2 linked regions of the Homo sapiens genome follow. The protein of the gene in region 1 purifies or fractionates together with the protein of each later gene. This does not show direct contact. Each region holds a gene or a part of one and is shown in the gene's direction. Other genes may lie near its edges.

Region 1 (4,446 bases):
AAGGAATAACTATTCTAAACAGTAACTTCCTTTTGTTCATTTCATTTAATTAATGACTCAATCAACTTTCACTCTTAATACTAAAATTTTCCTAAATTACACATTGGTTTGCAAATGGGATGGCATATAGCAGGGCTACGTCAATTTAATACTGGTGAAAATTCAGCAGATAATTCATTTTTCATTTAATCAGGAAGGAAAAAACTACTTGGCAGTGTAGAGCGACCTAATTAACTAAATAACTGCCAATTCTACATTGTACTTTGTGTTACATGACATATCATGAATAAATACCAGTCAAAAATCAAATTATTTGGATACTTAAATGATGATGAGGCCTGCTGTGCCAACAGGTATGCTAATGAGTAGACATCTCCCAGCCTCAAGACTGAGTGAATGAGGCAAATATTTTCACCTCCCAATCTTTTAGGGTGTTCAATTAACTCAAGTATTTAAGAAGTTCCCTACTATTGGGAAGGAAGTAGATGTAATCATCTATATGCTTATTTTGTCAACTGAGTTGGAAAAACTTGCAAAGGAACAGTTTGGATATATGTATTAGATTTTTATCAAAATACAAATAAATGGTCATAGATGACAATTTTCACCTAAGGAATACAAGTAAGTTTATCTATGTTCAGTTACCAATCGCCTCTAACTAAAGTTAACAATGTCTTCCTTCTAAAACCTTTCTAAAGAGCACCCTGCAATCACACCTTCTAGCAACAGCCATTTCTCTTGAATTAGTAAGGTGGCTACACCGCCAATTTGAGCTGTTCTCCTTCAGTCCTGTAGTCCATCGCCAGGGGAGTCTCCAAATGCTAATAAAAATCAATTTCCCAGACAAAAGAACATATACACGTTTTTTTCTTTCTTTCTTTCTTTTTTTTTTTTTTTTAGAAGAGGGTCAGGGAGCATCTGACGGACGTTTTTAAAGGAAGGGGACAGCTACTTCCATGGGACTGCATTTTAGTTGTGCTAAAAGTGATGAAAGTGGGTTTGCATTATTCTACCACCAACACCCAAACCACCTGCCCACGGAAACCCCCGCCGGAGACCGAAGTTTACCCAAATAGCGCTCGGCAAAGCGCTGCCATAAATTCAAAACTAACTCTGCCGGGCCCGCGGGGGTTGCGAGACAGGGACCGAACGTGAAACCCGGGGAGCCCCGCGTCTCTTGCCTCCGAAGGTTTTCCGTGATCAGTGTCCCCTTCTCTGCTGGAGTCGGAAGTGCCTGTCACCTGCGGATCTGCCCGACTCTCCCGGTCGGCCCTTCTTCTCTGCCCAGTTCGGACAGTCTCGAATTCCCCGTCGCAGCCCCGGCCACCTCGGACTCCCTGGTCCCCAGCCCCCGCCCCACCCCCCGCCTCCACCACGTCCCCTCCCCGCGGTCCCAGCCTCTCCAGGCGCTGCTGGGCTCTGATTGGCGGCTGCGCTGACAGCAGGCGGGGCCTGGAAGTCGCGGCCAAGCCCGCCCTCGCGTATAAGCCCCTCTCAGCGCTCTCTCTCCATCTCTCCCCTCTCTTTCTCTCTCGCTGCTCCCTTCCTCCCTGTAACTGAACAGTGAAAATTCACATTGTGGATCCGCTAACAGGCACAGATGTCATGTGAAAACGCACATGCTCTGCCATCCACACCGCCTTTCTTTCTTTTCTTTCTGTTTCCTTTTTTCCCCCTTGTTCCTTCTCCCTCTTCTTTGTAACTAACAAAACCACCACCAACTCCTCCTCCTGCTGCTGCCCTTCCTCCTCCTCCTCAGTCCAAGTGATCACAAAAGAAATCTTCTGAGCCGGAGGCGGTGGCATTTTTTAAAAAGCAAGCACATTGGAGAGAAAGAAAAAGAAAAACAAAACCAAAACAAAACCCAGGCACCAGACAGCCAGAACATTTTTTTTTCACCCTTCCTGAAAACAAACAAACAAACAAACAATCATCAAAACAGTCACCACCAACATCAAAACTGTTAACATAGCGGCGGCGGCGGCAAACGTCACCCTGCAGCCACGGCGTCCGCCTAAAGGGATGGTTTTCTCGGCAGAGCAGCTCTTCGCCGACCACCTTCTTCACTCGTGCTGAGCGGGATTTTTGGGCTCTCCGGGGTTCGGGCTGGGAGCAGCTTCATGACTACGCGGAGCGGGAGAGCGGCCACACCATGCGAGGTAAGCGAGTCTGCGGGCACCGAGGCTCCCCGAGTCCGGCCAACTCCAGCCAGACGGGGAGATGGGGGAGGGGAGGGCACCCAGCAGAAAGGGAAAGAGGTTGCCCAGGCGCAGTTCCCCGAATTCGCTCTCGCAGGTGGGGCTGCAAATGGCCTGGGCGTAGAAAGTTGCGGGAAGGTGTTGATGTCTTTCGGGAGTTCTGGAGGGACGCGGGAGGGCGCTTTTTTGGAGAGGGGAGACAGGCTAGTTGGTTCTTACCAGTCCTTGAGTTGCACTGAATCTTTTTTGCTTGTCGCTCTCGGGTGCGGAAGCGGACGCGGGATGGAGAAAGCCGAAAGAGGGATGCCTCTGGACAGGAGCAGTTTGGAAGCGCCCGGCGCGCAGTGGTCGCCGGCCGGGTTTGGGCGCGCGGGGCGCACCGGCCGGGGGCAGGGTGGACACGCGCGGGCACACACTCGCCAGGTTACGAGGCCCACTAAGCGTCCTGGCCAGCAGGCATGTCCCTTCGCTGGAGTAGCAAGCAGAAGAGCAGTGCTGCGAGGCTGGACGCGGCTGAGGAAACAGTTAGTTCCCCGGCACGCGGCTGAGGAAACAGTTCTGCGGCGCGCGCCTTCGTGCCGGCGCTGCGCCCTGGCCAGGTCCTCGTGCCCGAGCCCGCGCGGCCCAGGGAGTAGTGCGACCCCGGAAAAGTTGTAATGAGAAAGTTCTGGAGGCTTGGAAAGGCCACACTGCTCACAGTCGGAGAGTCATGGGCTCCGGCTCTTTTGTCAGATAAAGGGCCGGTAGTGGAAGGAGGTGCTGGTGCACCCTCGGGCCAGGACCCTCGCAGTCGCAGGCGGTGGCGGCGGCGGCGGCGGGACCCCGGGGCGAGCTGGGGTCTGCAGGGATGCGCGCCAGGGACTGTAGCGTTACGCTTGCTCCGGCTGGACTCTGGGCCTCTCGAAGGGCTGGAGGGTGGGTTTCGGGGAGTCACTTGGTCTCCTCTCCTGCCTTGCCGGAGACCTCAGGTTTCCTTCGCGCTGTGCTCGGCCTTTCTTCACTCTTTTACTGAAGAGCCAGGCGGGTGTCCGCTTGACATGGGGATCTGTGCAAGCTCTGGGCACCCACCCCCACTCCCAGTCCCTCTTCCTGGCCACACAGCGGTTAATCGGGGGCTCTTCTCTATCCTTCGCACGTACCCCTGGGTCTTGACAACAGAAAGTTAGTAACGGCCAGCTCCAGACCTTCTTGCATCCCAGACCCGGAGAGAGGTGGTCTAGGCAGGGAGCACTTGGGAGAGTTGGGATGCAATCACTGGTCTCCTCCTTCCACTGAAAGTGATCCTCTCCCACCCAGTCCCCCTACGCCCCTAGAGGAGCACCCCAGGAGGCAGCGGGTCTCACTCCCACTCCCTCCCGCACCCGGTGAGCCCCGAGCCTGGACTCAAGGGTTTGCTGGCTGGACGCTGGGATGTGTCAGGAAAGGGAAGGAGAAGAAGGAACGGAGAGAGACTGTCCATGGGGGAGGGGGTTGACTGTAGATAAGAAACAAGGACGTCCTGATGGGATGGTCTTGATTGGCCGGCTCGCTGGGAGTGGGGCACCCGTGTGTGTGCGCGCTGGCTCCAGCTGATTGTCCCGGTTGGGGGTTGGTTACACGCTCCACTGTCTAAATTCTTTCAAGAAACTATACTTGGGCAATTGGAGAGTAGAGAACCTTGGCTTAGTAAGAGACGCCCGGTCTTTTGTTTTTCTTTTTCTAGCCCATCTCACCATCCCATCCATTCTTTCGGTTTCCCCCGTCCCAGTCCAGAGCTGCCAGTTCGTCCCTCCCCTTCTTCCCTTCTAACTTTCCCCCTGTGGCTGGGTTCATACTTTCTGAACGTCGTAAACTATGCGCCACCTCAGCTCGGACCCAGCACTAGGACCTAGGGCATAAAATCCGCTCACTCCTTACATCGTAGAAGGAGTGCGGCGCGGGGTGGGGATGGGTTGTAGCTTGATCTAGCATCTCCTGAAGGAGCAGTTTGCAGATGACTGTCCTGGTTCGCCACGGCGGTCGCTTTGAGGACTCCAGAAGCTGGAAGGATTGAAAGCCAGGCGCTGGTCCTCATGCTCACCTTGAGAAAACCAGTTTAAGCCCACAGACCTATCAAAGAGGGCGCCAGCCTCGCCAGGCGCCCTAGGACCCCTTACAACTTCTAACTTGAGGCAGCTCTCAGGCGGCCTTAGGGGAATGCGCTGGAGAAAATGTAAGCTTAAAAGATGACCAGGTCACTCTATCGCCATTCCTGGTTGCCCTTTCCTGA
Region 2 (3,808 bases), on another chromosome or scaffold:
CTCTAGTAAGAATCCTCCCCTGGAATTTTCCACTAAAAGTAGTTGGCAGTAAAACATTCCAGGGCAAAGGAAACCAGCTTAGACCGTTCCATGCTCTGAGCTGTGTCTGGCAGTTTTCCTGTTTAGGAAGCAGTGATTGGGGGATCTTTCCGACCTGGCCGGTAACTTGGGCTAAGATGCTATCAAAGCATTTCTTTCCAAGTCTGGTGACACTTCAAGGCAAGAAAATGAGTGCTAAATTAACTGAGCATGCTGCCTCTCCTTGCTGACCTTCTTACCCTCAATTCAATTGTCATTTGGTCTTGAACCCCACAGATCCCCCAGGGAGTCCTTGAGCGAAACAATGTGATCACTCTGAACATAACAGGGAAAGCTGGAGCCACTCTGGACCTTCTGGTAGAGAACATGGGACGTGTGAACTATGGTGCATATATCAACGATTTTAAGGTAGGACAAACCACACTGTCAAGACTAAGGTTTAAGGGGTGACAACTTAGAAGTTGAAGCCCAGTACAGTGGCTCACACCTGTAATCTCAGCACTTTGGGAAGCCAAGGCAGGAGGATCACTTGAGGCCAGGAGTTCAAGACCAGCCTGGGTAAAATAGTGAGACCTCTACAAAGAATTAAAAACTTAGCCAGGTGTGGTGACATGCACCTGTGGTCTCAGCTACTCAGGAGGCTGAGGCAGGAGAATTGCTTGAGTCCAGAAGTTGGAGATTAAAATGACCTATGATCATGCCACTGCACTCTAGTCTGGGTGACAAAGTGAGACCTTGTCTCAAAAAAAAGAAGTAGTTGAGCTATTTTGAAGAGCTGTTTTCCTCTGTAGGTGATGAGAAAGTTGAGCTTTGCAAACAGAACCTTTCCCCTGTGTTTGAGTTTGGTCATCCTATAGAAAGAAACAGAAGGAGGAAGCCCCTCCACCATGCTTTTCCTCTGCTTTAAAAGACCACCAAGCTCACTGAAGGCACTCCTTTGCCAGTAAAGCCAGCTGAGCCTCTGTTCTGCCCTGTTTTATGGGTTTGGATGGTTAGCCTGTGGCAAACTCTTCACTTGTAGGAAGCCTCTTCCCTTGGGGCACTGGCTCTCACCTCTGTTGATTACTCCTGTGTCCAGATGTGTAGCCCAAATAAGTTTTTCTAACACATATTTTTAGAGCATTATTCAGCAAGCATTTGTTAAGCTCCCACTCCGCGAGATGCCCCACCAGGTGCTTTGGGGAATGCAAAGGTGTCAAGAGACAGGCTTCTCTCAGGGAGCTCAACCTCCGCGAGAGGAGAGAATGCCTTATCAAGGGAACAATGGCACCACCCAGGCTAGGGCAGGACAGGTGTCTGGGGCTATTTCCTGACCCTCTTGAGATCAGGCAATTACATCTTAGGGAACTTAGGGAATAGCTGTGTGCAGGCCACCTTTGCCTCCAGTATAAATGTCTCTCTCATAGTTCTTGTGCTCAGGGTGGACTTCATGGCCTCCTGCCTGGCTCTCACAGGCCACATTGACCCATGGGAGTGACTCGACTCTGTTGTGTAGTCTCTGGGTCTCCAGTACCTGTCAAAGAGCCTGACATACAGCCACCTGGTTAATATTTATCAAATTATTAAATGGGCAATCGAGACTTGGTATCTGGGATTCCACTGGGAATGGGGAAGTTCCCTACATACAAGCCAGGGAAGGGGAAGTTAGCTGAGCCTTGACAGCCCAGCCCTGGCCTGTGTGGAACAAATAGAGCAGCTTCTGAATTCAGGTCTGAGGTTTGCCATCGTCATCATTACCTTCCTATCCTCTTAAGGTATCACAGTATTCTCATGTATGTTATCTCACTTGGCCCTCATAACAGGTGAGTGACTCGGGTGTGGTCCTCCCTGTGATGATGGCTGAGGTGCTCAAGGCCAATATTTGCTCCTGGCTGCATCCGTCGTACCTGCTCCATCCGCAGTGGGATGACTATTCCTTTGTATCCCACACTCACTCATTCCTTCTGTCCCCAGATTCCATCTTGAGACAGGATCTTGCTGTCACCCAGCCTGGAGCGCAGTGGCACAATCTCGGCTTACTGCAACCTCTGTCTCCTGGGCTCAAGCAATCCTCCCTTCTCAGCCTCCCAAGTAGTTGGGACTATACGTGCATGCCCCCACACTAGGCCAATTTCTGTATGTTTTGTAGAGACTGGATCCCTTTTTGTTTTGAGATGGAGTGTCGCTCTGACACCCAGGCTGGAGTACAGTGGCGCGATCTCAGCTCACTGCAACCTCCACCTGTCAGGTTCAAGCGATTCTCATGCCTCAGCCTCCTGAGTATCTGGGATTACAGGCACCTGCCACCACACCCAGCTAACTTTTGTATTTTTAGTAAAGATGGGGTTTCATCATGTTGGCCAGGTTGGTCTTGAACTCCTAACCTCAAGTGATCTGTCTGCCTTGGCCTCTCAAAGTGCTGGGATTACAGGCATGAGCCACTGCGCCTGGCCCATCTTTCTTGGTGCCCATCTTTCTCTATTCTAGCAGTGGCTCTCAGCCAAACTCTGAAAATTTGGGAATTTGGGATCAATCACTCTAGCAACTCAATGCCCTTTCTGTAGAAGCAGAAACTCTGGGCCTTTTATAGAGACATCATGACCTGCAAAGGAGAAAGCTATAGTTTGGGGAATATATCTCTTCCCAAGGATTTGTAATTCAACCTCCAGTTAGATCTGTGTTACTTCGATGTACACATATTTCGAGGTTCATTTCCTGTTGGTGTTTTGTATCCCGGTTTGCTTTTCCCATTTCCCTGGAATGCAGAGACATGTGAAGCCTTTTTCCTTCCCTCCCCAGCTCACTGTGCTCTGTTTCTGCTTTGCAGGGTTTGGTTTCTAACCTGACTCTCAGTTCCAATATCCTCACGGACTGGACGATCTTTCCACTGGACACTGAGGATGCAGTGTGCAGCCACCTGGGGGGCTGGGGACACCGTGACAGTGGCCACCATGATGAAGCCTGGGCCCACAACTCATCCAACTACACGCTCCCGGCCTTTTATATGGGGAACTTCTCCATTCCCAGTGGGATCCCAGACTTGCCCCAGGACACCTTTATCCAGTTTCCTGGATGGACCAAGGTACGTGTCTTCATGGGAAGGGTTTGAATTCAGGCCTAAACTTTTGGTTGTTAGTGTCTGAGAAAGAATCACAAAGAGCTGTTAGTGAGATATCGTGTGATGGTTTTGAGTGTGGCGTTTCGGACATTCTTCAGGAGGCGGATTGTGGCAGATCTTCAGGGATTCAGTGGCCAGCTCGGAGGTGCTGCCATCTGCCCCCTTGTCATTGGCTTCCTGTAGTGAATGACACCATCCTGCCTCCTCCAAGAAGAATCATGACCCCTTTTGATGCTGATTATAGGGGTGCTTTCTCTTTATCTTGAGGACAATCCAGTCAAGACAAAGAGGTGGATCCCTCTGGGAGAGTCTGTCTGGTTTTCATTTATGCCAAGCCCAGTGCTCCCAGAATATCCCCACCTGCATCCAGCCCCACACCCCTGGGGCTTCTATCATAAGCTGTCTGCTTCTCCACTCTTCCTCATCCATTTTCACTTCCCAGTCACTCCGCCTTGTCGTTTGAAGACATTGGCATATCTTCCTTCACCGCCTTCTCCTCTCCCTCATGTCCTGTTTTCATCCTAGATCACCTTACCATCACTCATTCAACACACTTCTCATTCTGTGGCCACTATGTGCCCAAGGTGTGTGCCAGGCACTAAGGATACAATCATGAATAAAACCAAACATGGTCCTTTCCCTCATGGAACTTTCAGTCTAGTGAGGGAGGCA

Evidence for each region.
Region 2: the proteins of RORB (region 1) and GLB1 purify together in Homo sapiens (affinity purification with mass spectrometry, with the first as the bait; one large-scale study listed by BioGRID). This does not show direct contact.

Annotation. Positions count from the first base shown.
Region 1 is NC_000009.12:74,495,825-74,500,270, forward strand, and holds the start of RORB (nuclear receptor ROR-beta), read left to right. Parts: upstream 1-1,510; 5' UTR 1,511-2,152; coding exon 2,153-2,159; intron 2,160-2,417; exon of another isoform or gene 2,418-2,729; intron 2,730-4,446. UniProt on the Homo sapiens protein: Nuclear receptor that binds DNA as a monomer to ROR response elements (RORE) containing a single core motif half-site 5'-AGGTCA-3' preceded by a short A-T-rich sequence.
Region 2 is NC_000003.12:33,013,348-33,017,155, reverse strand, and holds part of GLB1 (beta-galactosidase isoform a preproprotein), read left to right. Parts: intron 1-315; coding exon 316-447; intron 448-2,845; coding exon 2,846-3,100; intron 3,101-3,808.